Regions from separate parts of the Homo sapiens genome. Here regions 2 and 3 are each reported to be linked to region 1. The links are microRNA targets in miRTarBase. Many come from high-throughput screens and were not tested one by one. Region 1 holds a microRNA gene; each other region holds the end of a gene's coding sequence.

What was found. The annotated mature microRNA hsa-miR-569 reads AGUUAAUGAAUCCUGGAAAGU and lies in region 1 at 1,726-1,746, opposite strand. An mRNA with a match to its seed (bases 2 to 7 or 8) in the 3' UTR can be bound and repressed. Matches are read on the target gene's strand: a 7mer-m8 pairs with bases 2 to 8, a 7mer-A1 pairs with bases 2 to 7 and ends in A, and an 8mer does both.
Region 2: miRTarBase lists SPI1 as a target of hsa-miR-569. Seed matches in the 3' UTR shown: 7mer-m8 at 3,971-3,977.
Region 3: miRTarBase lists TXNL1 as a target of hsa-miR-569. Seed matches in the 3' UTR shown: 7mer-m8 at 2,927-2,933.

The regions. Positions count from the first base shown.
Region 1 is chr3:171,104,954-171,110,026 of GRCh38, forward strand. It overlaps MIR569 (microRNA 569), which reads right to left and starts at 1,806; the gene lies at 1,711-1,806. It overlaps TNIK (TRAF2 and NCK interacting kinase), which reads right to left. Exons shown (of 33, transcript NM_015028.4): 20 at 3,112-3,209; 21 at 2,230-2,253. It overlaps LOC105374216 (a long non-coding RNA gene), which reads left to right. Exons shown (of 5, transcript XR_007096163.1): 2 at 2,241-2,422; 3 at 2,885-2,963.
Region 2 is chr11:47,350,927-47,355,996 of GRCh38, forward strand. SPI1 (Spi-1 proto-oncogene) reads right to left here. Exons shown (of 5, transcript NM_003120.3): 5 at 3,934-4,620. The coding sequence ends at 4,301. It overlaps MYBPC3 (myosin binding protein C3), which reads right to left and starts at 1,776. Exons shown (of 35, transcript NM_000256.3): 1 at 1,697-1,776; 2 at 313-579. The coding sequence starts at 1,721. RefSeq lists enhancers at 1-419, 420-1,400.
Region 3 is chr18:56,598,637-56,603,706 of GRCh38, forward strand. It overlaps TXNL1 (thioredoxin like 1), which reads right to left. Exons shown (of 8, transcript NM_004786.3): 8 at 1-4,420. The coding sequence ends at 4,391. Among named protein-coding and RNA genes, the nearest start is that of TXNL1, 37 kb to the right of the region's middle.

The sequences.
Region 1 (5,073 bases):
TGCCAACAGAGAAAACCCATTTATTTTCAAAGACTATATTCAAAGACTATATTAAATAGACTATGCTGCAAAATCTCATATTCCATTAGAAAGCAATGTCACATTAATGTACACTCCCCCAAATTAATTTTTATAAAAAGTTAAATCATTAGCAATAACAAGCGACAATATTTCAAAAGTGATTTTCAGATTTTTCATTTCAATCCCAGTTATCTAAATTGCAAAAACAGTCGTTGAGAGGGAAGCCCTACCAAAACCTATGAATGGAGAAGGGAGAAAGGTGTAGTTCAAAGTTTCTCAATTATGGCCCTGTTGACATTTTGGGCCAGATAATTCTTTATTGTAGGGAGTTCTCTGTGCACCACGGGATGTTTGGCAGCAGCACCCCTCTGCTCTATCCACAAGATGCCAGTACCACTGCCTGCTACTCTGAAGTGGTGACAACCAAAACTGTCTCCAGATTTTGCCAAATGTCTCCTAAGGGAAGAGGAGTGGAGGAATCAGCCGTGGTTGAGAGCCACTGGGTTAGGTAGAACCGCTTTATTTTAGTGGTTTGGATCAGTGATACTCAAGAGATCAGGATAGTCACCTGGAGGGCTTTTCCAACCATACATGGCTCCAGAGATTTTAGTATGCAGCTCACACCCCCTCAATTATTTGTAATTACGTATACCTCCATTGCCCCCTCTCATCTCTGTCCAGTGTGGTGCAGTACACCAAAAAAAAGTAGAGCAATTTTTCAAAGCCTAAAATATTCTGGGTTAATCAGATGAAATCTGTGAGAGCCTTTTCCTTAATGACGGCCCCTCCAAGCCAATTTCTGAACTCATGTAATTCCTCTTGAGTTCTGCACATGCACAGCCATTTTATTGGCAACTGTAGCACCAGAACTTCACTGTCTTTCTTTACCTGTTCTGGGAGAAAACTGACAAAAGTTGTGATAATCCCTGCCCTTCTCACTATTATGAGAGAGAGGGGCAAGCAAGGCCACGGCACAGAGCAATTAAAAACACACTCTCCTCTTCCCTTTCTATAAATGCCATCCACACACCGCAAACATGCGGAGTCTCATTCTTTTATAAGCAACAATCCTTCAACTATGATCATAACTGTCTCGTCACTCTGGGTGGTGAGGTGGCCATAAGTCTGAAAAAGTGAGGCTCTTCGGTGAAGACCAGATACATGGAAACATGCTTCTCCTACCTGCCAAAATAGCTCCATGCCTCTGGCCCAAACCTTAATCAAACCCTTGGCTTTCTGCAGCAATGTTACACATAAAATGCTTTCACACACATTACCTTAAATGATCCTAAACAATCTTGTAAGTGGGATGGGGAGGTGTTTTTATTCTCATTTTATGGATGAGGAAACTCTGGCCCAGTGAGGTTATGAGACTAGTCTCAGCCAGTTATTTACTGGGGGAGCCAAGATTTGAATGCAGCTTGCTGACCTCAAAGCCAGTGCTTTTTCCATTAAATTTCACAAAAGTAGTGCTCAGCAGAGCTACAGCTTTAAAGCCATGATGGTAGTCTTTAGATTCCATGCATTTAGGACTCTTTGCAAGGCCTGGATCTTAAAAAAACAAATTCTACTCTGCTGTATTCATGCAGGTCTGACAAATAGCAGTAAGGCAGTCATCCTTCTTAGCAAGCTACCTACAACTGACAAAGCCATATATTTTTCTAATGGAAAACGTCTCCACAGACAAGGAAATAAAGTCACTTAACTTTCCAGGATTCATTAACTAAAGCTGATGTTGCTTCTGATGCTGTTGTTAATGTCCCACAAAATTAATCTAACAATACCTACTAACTCCTTGTTCACAAATCACACACTCTAAATTTGGAGTGTCCTAGAATGATGTCTCTTTTCTTGTTAGTAAAACTGCTGAGAGCCATTCCCTAGCAAGGCTGGCAAGTACAGGTTTGCTATTGGAAGATACTGGAAGGAGAAACTGCCATTAATAAAGCATGAATACTTGTCATTAGCCAGACTGGAACATTGGAAAAGTGACATTTTAGCTTAGAAGGAAGGTCTCTGAAGCTATATGGGTAGGTTTGAGGGTCTTAAAGTTGGCTTCCATTTGAAGGGGCACTCCTCCCAGCAGATTGCTACAAATCTCCTCCCAGCTGATTGCTCCCATTGGCCACCTTTCTGAATGTCAACATTAGGAAATAAGTTTAATATTTACATTTTGTGAAAGCATGACCAAGAAAAGGTAATACTAACCTCATCTATAGCTTTTTTGTAGCTCTGAAATGAGAGGAACCCAATCCAGAAGAATCCACAGAAGGAGGAAAAGCCAGCAGAAAGGCAGCAGATTAGACACAAAATTGTAATTGTTAGTACGCAACTGATAAATACAAAAGGGCGAAGAGAATGTCAATCCAGAATGATGCAAATCCCTTCATTATTACTCTCGGTATACGTCGTTACTTTAAGATGTTAAAAAAGAGTAAACCAAAAAGCTTCACGTTCATTTTACAGAAAAGATTCTCAAGAGATTTAAATAGAAAAAATGGATAGTAATTCATCCCAAATTAATTTTCAACTTTCAAATTTTAGCCTCCATACTCCTCTTTAAGGCTACCTGGGGGTCTATCATGTTACAGCAGTGAAGCTGGATGCTAAGTTGTTACGACGCCTGTTGGACCCTGCTTAAAAAGTTTGGTCCAGAAAATATAGTCCTGGAGGCATGAAAAATAGCAGAAAAACTGTAATATTAATTCATGTGGAAAATAATATGGGGAAAGAGTAGAAGAGATTAGAGAAGTTCATAGAAAGTACCCAAGTCTCTTTAACTGCTACTTTCAACATCTTTTTGCCAAAGTTGCTGAGTAGAAATTATGGAATGATAGGAGTTGTTTCTCTTCCTGTTTTATAGTTAAAGGACTGCTAATGATCAGCAAATAGCCAAAGGCAGAGGAGTCAATCCAAGATCTCTTCGGTTCTTTCCTAATCAGGTATGACTTTCTTCGGGATGTTTCTAGCATCCGTTCTTACTAATCTCAACAATTTTTGTTTGCATCATGAGTGTATCCCCAACTACTTAATCCTGTGGGTTCTCTGGTAAATTAAGAGTTCAAAACTCTTGGAGAGAAAAGCACTCACAGCTGGTCGACTGGGCCGGGTAATGTCCCTGGATTCTTCTGGTTTCACCTTCGCAGGCTCATGGGGGAGCACAGGTGATCCTTCTGACTTACTGTTGGCTAGAGGAAAAAAACAGAGGACCAAGAAAGAGATGGCCATCAAAAAGTGCTGGCTCAAGTTCTGAATGAATTATCTGTGATGTGTCATCACATTGAGATTACTCAGTGGACACGTCATTCACCTGGGCAAATCCTCAAGAAACATCCATGAAAAATATAATGTTCAGGCAAACACATTTAGGCTTGTGACCTGGAAATCACTAGTAACAATTAAAAAAAAAAGAAATGTAGCAAGTACTATCACCACTAGAGCACTTCTTATGTGTCAGGCATAGTGCTAAATGCTTTCCATGTCAATTATCTCATTTAATCCTCACTCCAACCCAATGATATGGCACTATTCTCCTATTTTACAGAACACAGATTTACAAAGATGACACAACTGTCCGGAGGTCACACTGAAATTATAGACAGAGCTGGAGTTCTGATTTCTGAAAGTCCTATTCTCAGTCACTATGCTAAATGAGCCTCTAAGGTTCTATGCTTGTTTTCTTCTTTTATCATTTGTCCAATCAGGATAGGTTATTTTGTTGAAATTTTGTGAGGGAAAAAAAATTTATTTTATTTGGTGGAACGGTTTTTAATTGGAGATGGGAGTGGTCTCAGCCCTTTAAAAATAAAAGAATGAGGTGAGGGCAAGAAGGGGGTTGTTATAGGAGAAGGGCCCTAGGCTGGAGGTACAGAGCAAGGTCAAGGGGACCCTGACAGCTGCAGAGTGAATAGCATCTTTGCAGTCTATGAGCTTACAGATAGAGAAGATGCAATTTAGGGTAGGAGAGGTGGTTTTTATTTCTTAAAAAGTAGTCTTTCTTGGACAGGGACATACCAGGGATACAACAGCCCTTTTAATCCGGAAGAACGAGGGGCTGAAGGAAATAAAAAGTAAGCCTGAACCAGACCAGAGAATTAAAATGGTATGCGTTTAAGTTTGGTTTATTTAAATATTTGCTCTAAGAATATGAAGTTGCCTATAAATAGAAAAAAGATAACAGAATGGCTGTTTTCTTTCTTTAGGTGTTTTAGAGATGGGGCTCTGTCACCTAGGCTGGAGCGCAGTGGGGCCATCATAGCTCACTGCAGCCTTGAACTCCTGAGCTTAAGCAATTCTTCTACCTCGGCCTTCCGGGTACCTAGGACTACAGGCGTAAGCCACTACATCTGGTAGTTTTCTAAATTAAGGAAATTTATATTTCGATCAAGGCAACAAAGACATACAGTAGATACTTCTGAGATGTGCCACTAATCAGAAGAATGCATATAGAGGCAGCTGTTGGCTAGTCCATATCCCAATCCAGAGACGTGAACATCAATCACATGTTAGATATCAAGCTTTTTAAAATGGAAATAGAGTGATTTATTTAAAACCCTGAAAGGGTGTTAGGAGATAAACTAAGGGTATTAGGAGGTGGTATGTAATAAAGAGTCTAAGAAAGAAAAAAGAACTGAAGGTTCTCATGAGGCTTTCATCAGACAGAGAAACTTATAAGTATGTTAATATTTGTCAAATTGCAATTAAAGTACTGGTCTTCATCACTTAGAAGCAAAATTATCTTCTGAAGAAGTTGATTCAGAAGGAGTGAATTTTAACTAGCTAGAAACAATGTATTATTATGTATCAGCACCTGGAAATAATAATGTTTTTCATAGGCCTCCCCATTACTGGAAACTAAACAATGATGAATAATTTGAATTAAATATTTAGAGAGGCTAATTTTTACTTAATAGGAATAACCAGAGGAGTCAACAATTTTTTTTTTTTTTGATGGAGTTTCATTCTTGTTGCCAAGGCTGGAGTACAATGGCGTGATCTTGGCTCACCACAACCTCTGCCTCCTGGGTTCAAGCGATTCTCCTGCCTCAGCCT
Region 2 (5,070 bases), not on the chromosome of region 1:
CACAGCTCCTGGGGCTTCCCGGCCGTCTGTGCAGGGTCATCTCCCCAGGGAGGTCTGCAGGGGGAGAGTGGGGTTGTGTCTTGTTCATCTCTCCCACCTACCCCATGGCTGGAACAAGCCAGGATGGCACATGGGGGTACTCAGAGAGGTCATGTGCAGAAAAGGGGGAAAGGGCGTTCCTGGCGGGGGGCACAGCCACAGCAAAGGCAAGAAAGTGTGAAAGCACCTCCTGTTCCCTGGATGGATGGAGAGTCGCTGGGCTGCCCCTCCCCCAGCAGCCCAAACCTCAGGGAAGGCTGATCAGGATCTTACCTGCCTCTATGACCTTGAGGTCGAACTTGACCTTGGAGGAGCCAGCAATGACTGCGTAAGATCCCTGGTCGGCAGGGCCCACTTCCCGCACTGTCAGCGTATGCCGTGTGCCCTCTGTGGCCAGGCCGTACTTGTTGCTGGCGCTGATGTCACTGCCTCCGCGCTGCCAGCGCACCTTCACTCCTGCCCGCTCTGTCTCGGCCTCGAACACGGCAGGGCTGCCTGCGGCCACTTCCACTGACCGTGGCTTCTTGCTAAAAGCTGAGACTGAAGGGCCAGGTGGAGGCTACAGCGGCCCCTGGTTGGAGCGTGCACCCCGCCCCTGCAGCCCCTCTCAGTAAATACTGTGCTAGCACTTTCTATGCATCCCCTCACGTAATACTCTACCAGTTCTCTGAGGTAGTTGCAGTTATTCTGTTCATTTCTCAGAGGAGGACACTGAGGCTCAGAGAAGCTAAGCGGCTCCTCCAAGATCACACAGCTAGCAGTCGGGAGAGCCAGGGCTGTGGTCCTGACCTCCCAACAAGACTTTTTCTGCATGTGTCCACTTTCCCTGCTTGGAGACACCCGTGATGAACCCAGCTCCCTTTCCCCCAACCATTTCGGGCCCTTGGCAGGGGGCGGGGAAGTCTGCCTACTTGGAATGTGGCCAAATTTGTCCTCCAAGGACCTCAGGCTGGGTATCAGCAACTGAGATAAAGCTGGCCTGGGAGGGCGCTGGGGGATGGGGACCTGGATCTCTGCCCTGGACAACCTTCATAAGGGCACAGCCCAGGCCCAGGTCCCTGGGCTGTGATTTTCCCTGCCCTTGGCCTGGGTTCAGGGGCTCCTGACTGTCCTCTCTCAGAGAAGAGGGGCTGTGTCACCCTCAACATGGGGGCCACACCGTACAGGCTCATGAAGCAGATAATGTCACAGCCAGGAGGAACCAACCCAATGCCACCACCACCCCCGGCACCCCAGGTTGGGAGACTGAGACCCATAGTGGGTAGAGACTGGTCTGAAGGCATGCCGTGAGCCTGGCTCAGCTCCATACTAAACGTGGGCTCTGTCCGCGGGGAACCTTGCTGTGGAAGGTGAAGGCAATGGGACAGGGAAGGGGTCCCTTTGCATTCTCAGAATGGGTTGACCCCGGGTGCTTCCTGTCTTGGCTGTGTCCCCTCTCTGCGTCCCTGACCTTGGGTTTACCTTCACCTCTCATCAGAGGGATGGGAAAAAGAAACCGAGAATCAAAAAAGGACCCTGGAGGACTGGCTGCCCCTGTCCTGGGGCTCAGAGGCCACGTCCTCGTCAACCCCCTCAAGAACTCCCTCCTAGCCCTGCTCCCCAATTGTAGACACCCCCCTGCTCCCACACTTAGACCCAACCCCAGTCCTAAAGCTACCTGGCTTCTTCCCCGGCTCAGGCATCCTGAGAGACGTCACACCAGGCACGAAGCAGGCACAGGTCACCCAAAGAGGGACTGAGTGGGGTCCTGTCCTTCCCACTATATATGGGGACCTCCCCCCTCCCCAGGCTCTGCTTATCTGCCTCCTGTCCAGCCACCTGCTAAATATAGATGAATTCCAGAGAGCTGAGGTCTCTCCAGGGAGAAGGTAGGGCCACATTGTCCCTGGCTGGCTCCTGTCCCTTCCCCCCTCACCCCCCGCAGCACAATTCTGCCTCCCCAACCTTTGGCAAGCCTCAGGGGTACTCCAAGCCCCGTGTGTGTCCCTCTTACAGCAAATTGTACGGTGGGAGCATGCTGGGCCCATAACCCTAAGGCTAACGGGTCAGGAGCATCCTCGCAGGCAGTTCAGGCAGTGGTCATGTCCACAGACCCTGGGGCCAGGGTGTCTCTGAGTCCTAGCACTGCCATCTCTTTAATCTCAAAGCACCTGGTTTCCTCATCTGTAAAGCGGGGTGGGTGAAAGCAGCACCCACTGCACAGGATTGTCACACGTATGAAGTGGGTTTATAATTTTAAAAATGTTAGGCCGGGTGTGGTGGCTCATCTGTAATCCCAGCACTTTGGGAGGCCGAGGCAGGCAGATTATTTGAGGCCAGGAGTTTGAGACCAGCCTGGGCAACATGGCAAAACCCCATCTCTACTAAAAAAATAAAAAATAAAATAAATACACACACACACACAAATTAGCCAGGTGTGGTGGTGTGGACCTGTAGTATCAGCTACCCAGGAGGCTGAGGTGGGAGGATCGCTTGAGTCCAAGGAGTTCCGGGCTGCAGTGAGCCAAAATCGCACCACTGCACTGCAGCCTGGGTGACAGAGTGATAATAATAATAAAAATATTATTTATTATTATTTTTTATTATTAATATCTCAAAGAATAATAATAAAAAAATAAAAATGGGCTGGGCGAAGTGGCTCACACCTGTAATCCCAGCACTTTGGGAGGCTGAGGCGGGCAGATCACTTGAGCTCAGGAGTTCGAGACCAGCCTGGGCAACATGATGAAACCCCATCTGTACAAAAAATACAAAAATCAGTCAGGCATGTGACGCACACCTGTAGTCCCAGATGCTCGGGAGGCTGAGGCAGGAGAATCACTTGAGCCCGGGGGGTCAGGGCTGCAGTGAGCCATGTTCGTGCCACTGCACTCCAGCCTGGGCAACAAAGTAAGACCCTGTCTCAAAAAAAAAAAAATAAAAATAGAAGAATGAAGACACAACACCATTTTGCCTTCTCTTGTGGCCCTGCAGTAGGACTAGGGAGCTGCAGGGTTGGGCTGCAGTGAGCCCTCTGGGGTTGAGGAGGTGTGGGGCGGGTATTTGTCCCTACGATAATGGCCCCAGAATCTGGGTTCCCTAAGGTCTTTGACAGCGTTGGGAAGTCCCTCACTCCCAGGCTGTCTACTGCCACTACTTGCTACCGTCTGGAGGAAAACACAGGACTTACAGGCTTCTCCGCTCAGCTTGGTCTGTTTCTCCCCTGCTGTGGCTAGGAGCTAGAAAGCAAATAGAACCTGGGGGTCCCACCAGGGATTCACTTGGGTCTAAAGTCCTGCTGGGCGTGCAGCTCGTGAGAACCCTTTGCGGCCCACAGGAGCTTTGGGGCTTAATTCCTGTCCTCGGAATGCTGAAGAGTATCCTCTTCCAGATAAGCAAGGCCTCCCACTCCATGTTGACGTGTCGGGACAGACCTGGAGTGTGATCCAACTTGGCCACTCAACGGCTGTGACCTTGGGGAAATAATTTGACCTCTACAAGCCTCAGTTTCCCATTCTATAAAATGGAGTGATATTAGACTCCACATCTCAAGGTTGGCAGATACTAATTGACCAGAATATCAAATGTTGTTGCTGGTCATGGTCATCATCATCATCATCATCATCATCATGAGTTCAAACCTCATCAAGGCTTAAAAACAACAACTATCAGGAGTAGAGAGCTTTTAAATAGGATCTGCTCTCCTAATCACAATTGAGGACTTGTTCTTTCCACCAAACTCTAACTCCTGTTCAGGCGCTCTGTGTCATTGGTCCTCATGTTCCCAGGGTCCAGCATTGGGTACAGTCCTCGGTAAACACCCGATGGACAAATGACAAAAAGAGACGTCGCAGCACACAGGGGCCAAAAGAGATACACAACAAATTTTAAAAGAGACTCTGTGCTGCAAGAGGATGGATTGAGAATAACTTTACTTGTTTTTTGGGAGGAGGTTAATGGGTGGGAGGGGTGAGAGGGGAGATCTGATTTACATACGGACTTGAGACTCCCAAGGCAGTACCCCGGGTCGTCCTCTGCAAGGTTGCCCCGGTGGGGTCTGACGCCCAGCTGGCGTCCGGGAGCCGGGGTGGAGTCCTGGAGGGAGGCGAAGCGGGATGTGGAGGGGGCCTGGAGTGGGGGGAGGGGGCGGGTGAGGCGAGGCCCGGCCCGCCACAGTCCTGCCTCTGGGCCCCGGGAGCGTCCTCCCTGTGTCCGGGCCGGGCGAGGGCTTAATGCTATGGCCAGCGGGGAGGCCTGGCGGGGCCCGGCGGGGGCTGCGGGCTCAGTGGGGCGGGTGGCGCCGCTCGGCCAGGCCCCCGCGGCCCAGCACTTCGCCGCTGAACTGGTAGGTGAGCTTCTTCTTCACCTTCTTGACCTCGCCCGTCTTGCCGTAGTTGCGCAGCGCGCGCGCCATCTTCTGGTAGGTCATCTTCTTGCGGTTGCCCTTCTGGATGCCCCAGCGGTGCGCCAGCGCCTCCTTGTGCTTGGACGAGAACTGGAAGGTGCCCTTGTCCTTGTCCACCCACCAGATGCTGTCCTTCATGTCGCCGCTGCGGAGCAGGTCCAACAGGAACTGGTACAGGCGGATCTTCTTCTTGCTGCCTGCGGGGGGGAGGGCCCGGTGGGAGGGGGCCCGGGGCCCACATGGGAGCCGCCCCCACCGCCTTGCGTACGCACAGGGGCCCGGGGACGGGGTGGCCGGGAAGGGCAGGGGAACGGCTGCCCCAGCCCGCGCCGGGCGTGCATACACAACGCACCCACACTCACACACACACACATGCTTGCGCACACACAGGCGTTCACACACACCCACTCACACCCACGCACTCACCCCCCCCACGCGCACACACTCGCACCCACACAGTGCACCAAGTACACACACATGCTCACATCCACATAACGCACCCACACCTCCTTACACATGCTCACACATCACGCCCACACCCACTCACACACGTGCTCACACAACGCACCTTCTCACACCCACTCACACTCATGCTTAAACACAATGCAACCACTCACTCATGCTCACACCCACACACGCTCACACGT
Region 3 (5,070 bases), not on the chromosome of region 1:
GCAGAAACAAAGAGACAATTAGGAGGCACTGCAGTATGCCAAGCAAGTAATGATGGCCTAAAAAGCAGTGACAGCTGAGAGCAGGATACAGAAGATACTTATCCTTGTTCCAGATACAAAGTAAGGCGCATCTTCAGAACAAGTCTAAGAGATAGATGTTCCTATTTTTACACAAGAAGAAATTTGAGCTCTGAAGGATGTTACTTGCTCAAGATGACACAGCTAACAAGTGGAAGAGCAGGGATTCAAACTTCAGAGATTTTGCTCCTAGGTAGTATGATGAGCCAGTATCTCCAAATGCGTGTCCAATTATAAACCAACAGATCATGTTTTCACAATTAATTCTGGTCTGTTCAACTTAGAAATAATTCCAAAATAAAATTCCTCTTCCCATAGAGAAGCATAGCAAGCACGAAGGAAAAATACTCTAGCAGTTTTAACATTGCATATCCTTAAGATTTTAATATTCCAAGCTGTGTACAATTTTAGTACATTCAAATTCTAAAGGTTATCTCTTTATCTTATAGTTCTCTAATTACACATTCTCCAACTAATAATTTTACATGGACCACAAAGTTTAAAAGCGATCTTATTAGCCTACAAATCTCCACTGTCCTCTTATTCCTATAGTGCTGAGCATGTTAAAAAAAAAAAAAAACCTTATTGATCAAAAATAAAACTTGAATTTTGAAACATGCTTAAAATGACATCAGTAGTCTTCCTTAAGAAGTATAGGCTTAACTGGGGAATAGTCAATATTTTAAAATTTATTTACTATATGCATGTTATATATACTTGCTTTATGTGTATTATAAAGCATAATCTATATTTACAAAACTGTAAAATACACACCTCTAATAATGAGTTTTAAAGCTAAATGAGCAAAATATTCCTCTAGTTTTTCTTTAGCAGTTCTGTGAATGGATTTTTTTTTTTTTTCTTTTGAGACAGTCTCACTCTGTTGCCCGGGCTAGTGTGCAGTCATGCGATCTTGGCTCACTGCAACCTCCGCCTCCCGGGTTCAAGCGATTCTACTGCCTCAGCCTCCCAAGTAGCTGGGTGTGGCACCTGCCACCATGCCTGGCTAATTTTTTGTATTTTTAGTAGAGACAGGGTTTCTCCATGTTAGCCAGGCTGGTCTCAAACTCCTGACCTCAAGTGATCCAGCCGCCTCGGCCTCCCAAAATGCTGGGATTACAGGCATGAGCCACTGTTCCCAGCTGGATTTCTTACTCTAAGTTACTTATCTTAAAAAAAAAATAGTCTAAGATTACAAATTATCAGTTCCAGAAGAGATATACCTAACACAAAAATTAACCTACTAAATTGAACTATATGAGTATCAATACAAGCAACATGAGTAAGCCTTAAATTTCATGTTTTTAAAGCTTACAAAGGGTGTAACTAATTTATTCAACTCCAACACTTTATTCTTATTACAGAATCAAAGCTTTTAGACATTAAGAGGAACAAGGGAGGATCTGAACTATTTTAGGTTTAAAAGCCCATGATCAGGGATATTAATTGCAGCCATAAATAAACTGCTGAGGCCAAATAAACAACTGCATTCCTATAATCGCTGCCAAAAACACTGCATACATCCTCAAACATTGAGACAAAGGATGGCAGACAGGTTTCAACTCTAATTGTTAAGTGGCTGCCTCCAACAGAATATTGAGACTGGGGAACAATGTGGGGCAGGTTTCAACTCTAATTGTTACGTGGCTGCCTCCAACAGAATATTGAGACTGGGGAACAAAGTGGGGCAGGTTTCAACTCTAATTGTTACGTGGCTGCCTCCAACAGAATATTGAGACTGGGGAACAATGTGGGGCAGGTTTCAACTCTAATTGTTACGTGGCTGCCTCCAACAGAATATTGAGACTGGGGAACAACGTGGGGCAGGTTTCAACTCTAATTGTTATGTGGCTGCCTCCAACAGTATATTGAGACTGGGGAACAACGTGGGGCAGGTTTCAACTCTAATTGTTACGTGGCTGCCTCCAACAGTATATTGAGACTGGGGAACAACGTGGGGCAGGTTTCAACTCTAATTGTTACGTGGCTGCCTCCAACAGAATATTGAGACTGGGGAACAACGTGGGGCTTGATGTCAAAGAGAACTCAGAAGGATTATAAAAGCCTGTCGTGGGCACAAGAATGTGGTACCTTGTGCTACTCTTGGCTTCAGCATTAAGCTGACAAAGACTTCCTACTGCAATACCTGACTTTCGTTTCTATTATGAACACGATATTTCACTGTTGTTTCTCATCAAAAGCACCTGATGTCAATGTATCAAAATACAGAGATCATGAAATTCTTTTTTGCTATGTCCGACAAAATGAACAAGAAACTGAATACCAGTTTTCTAGATGCACTAATAAATAACTTCAGTTAAAATAACTAGAGTTACATTTTTTCAAATGCTCTTATTCATCTGGAAAATTCAGTGTTATATATAAATGTTACATATACATATGTGTGTATATATATATACTGTTTTAGGAGAAAACAGCATTTCAGTTTGATATTTTAAATGCCAATTATGCACATTTATAATAGTAAGATTTCCCATTAAGTGAAACGTTATAGTTACCTATAAACGTTCATTTTTCACTATTTACAATTTGAATTATGTAATACTTGCATACTGCAACTAATTGTTATAGAAGAGTCACATAGACAATATAAATCTGATGTCCAATCCTTTACAAATACGAAATTTGTTTCACTGGGTTTTCAAACTATCAAGTATAAATAGGAAAAGGTCAGCAATACTTAGGATGAGGCACTTTAACAATTACTCAGAAAGGTTAAGTGTACAAAACTGTAAACCAAAACCCTGCATATTAATCTTATCCTTAATTTCAGATGTGATTAATCTGAGATGGTCTATTTAAGGAGTGTTAAGATCATCACAGACCAGTTAATGTGCCCATATACAAATGAACTAAACTATCTAATGACACTTGGGTTTCAGAAAGGGACTCTTTCAACACTAAAACTTCTGTAGAATTTTTTCATAAACAAGTATAAACACACTGCTCTCACAAAGGCAAATGGTATCTCTACCATATTCCTAGACAAGAATGCCCTCAAATGTTTAACTGAATCACAATTTTACAGTCTTATGTACTCTTTAAAAATAGTTTTCAAAATACTCAGAAATTTTAAAATTAAAACTACCAATACTTTTTAGATTACAATTTTAAGATAAAAAAGGTAACGAATAGGTATTTTACCAGCCTTTTGTGAAAGACCTTTTAAACATTTCTATTTGAGCACCTCATTTTCAACCTTAAATCATGTTCTCTGTATATTTACACTGCACGTTTTGGTAGTTCAGGTAATAAATACTTGATTAAGGGTAATAATTCCCTTTTTTTTTTGGAGACGGAGTTTTGCTCTTGTCGCTCAGGCTGGGGCGCAATGGCGCAATCTCAGCTCACTGCAACCTCTGCCTCCCGGGTTCAGCCGATTCTTCTGTCTCAGCCTCCCAAGTAGCTGGGATTACAGACACCCGCCACCATGCCTGGCTAATTTTTGTATTTTTAGTAGAGACGAGGTTTCACCATGTTGGCCAAGCTGGACTCGAACTCCTGACCTCTGGTGATTCGCCCGCCTTGGCCTCCCAAAGTACTGGGATTACAGACATTAGCCACCACACCTGGCCAATTCCTGTTTTCTGAATTCACTATGCTGTATTTTTTCCCCAACTGTCTGATTTCCACATTCTTCTATTAGTTAAAAAAAAAAAAAAAAAAAAAAAGGCTGACTCAAATTTTAAAGTTTACCAGAAGAGATTAAAATCTTGATATATACCAAGAAAGAATCTGTGGACCCATTAGCTAAGTTTTAGGTAAGAGTAGCTAAATCTCATTAAACCTGTTTATTTCTTCTAATTTATAATTTGAGTAATTTCCATAGCTCAGATATACAAATGTCCTTTAATAAAAATGCAGTAATAATTTAACATGGTTAGCTGTTCCAGGTTCACTTATCAAAATAACTTGCCATGAATGTGTACACATGTACTTCTTAATTCCCTAGAACAGTTTCTCCTTTTCTAAAGAAACTGGCTTTCAATCAATATACTACCAGACACTTAAGTCTCTACTAAAATCAGAAGTTAACCAGTTTTCAAATACATGGAAAGAGAAAATACTGATTTAGAAAGACAAAAATTAAGCTTGGCAAAAGTGGTGACTTTTATTTACAATTGCATGTGTCAAGATTACAATGGAAACACTAGTGATACCATCTGAACAAAAGCAATGATTTATTGGTAATGGCAATGAATGAAACATTGACAGTCTCTGGCGAGAATCAAGCAATTATCCAGGAGCTGTAGATCTGATTGCAATATGGTTGTCCAGTGTCTTTTGTACCTTAGTGGCTTTCTCCTTTTTTGCCAACTACCTAGAAAAACAAAAATAAGTTTATATGTACATCCTATTGATTTTAAATATGAGTTATTAAAAATACTAATAATCAGTTTAAAACCTTGGTATTAATTTTTATCCTTGGATCTTTTCTGGCATGCAATGTATTTTCACTGTTGAAGCAAACTGTGACCTCCCCTCCAATCCCAGCCACAAGGAATTAAAAATAAAACACATGCAGGCTATTTTTGGTTTCACACAGTTTTTTTTTTTTTTTTAAATAGCAATTTTTAAAAACAAGGTTGAAAGTTTAGAGAAGTTAATTTAAAAAATGATGCTATATGAGTAAAACATATTTGACATACTATTTTTAGATAGTTAGAAATCAAATGTCGATCACAAAAGAATCTGGAATTAGAAGCGTATGTTAAACTCATGTCCTTCATGCCCAATATAGCAAATTTCCAGACTTTCCCCCTCAATACACTGACATGCAATGAAAACAGATTAAAAGTGACTAATTTTTTCTGGTTTAAGAAAAAGATCCTGGTTACTTTAAGAGTACTATTAAAAATGAAATGAATAAACCTTGTTTCTGTCAATGATTAGAAAAATCCTCTACTGGAGGATTATAAAAAACATTCTGGTTGCTATATATGTGGCAGCATAAAAATGTGAAGAATAAAA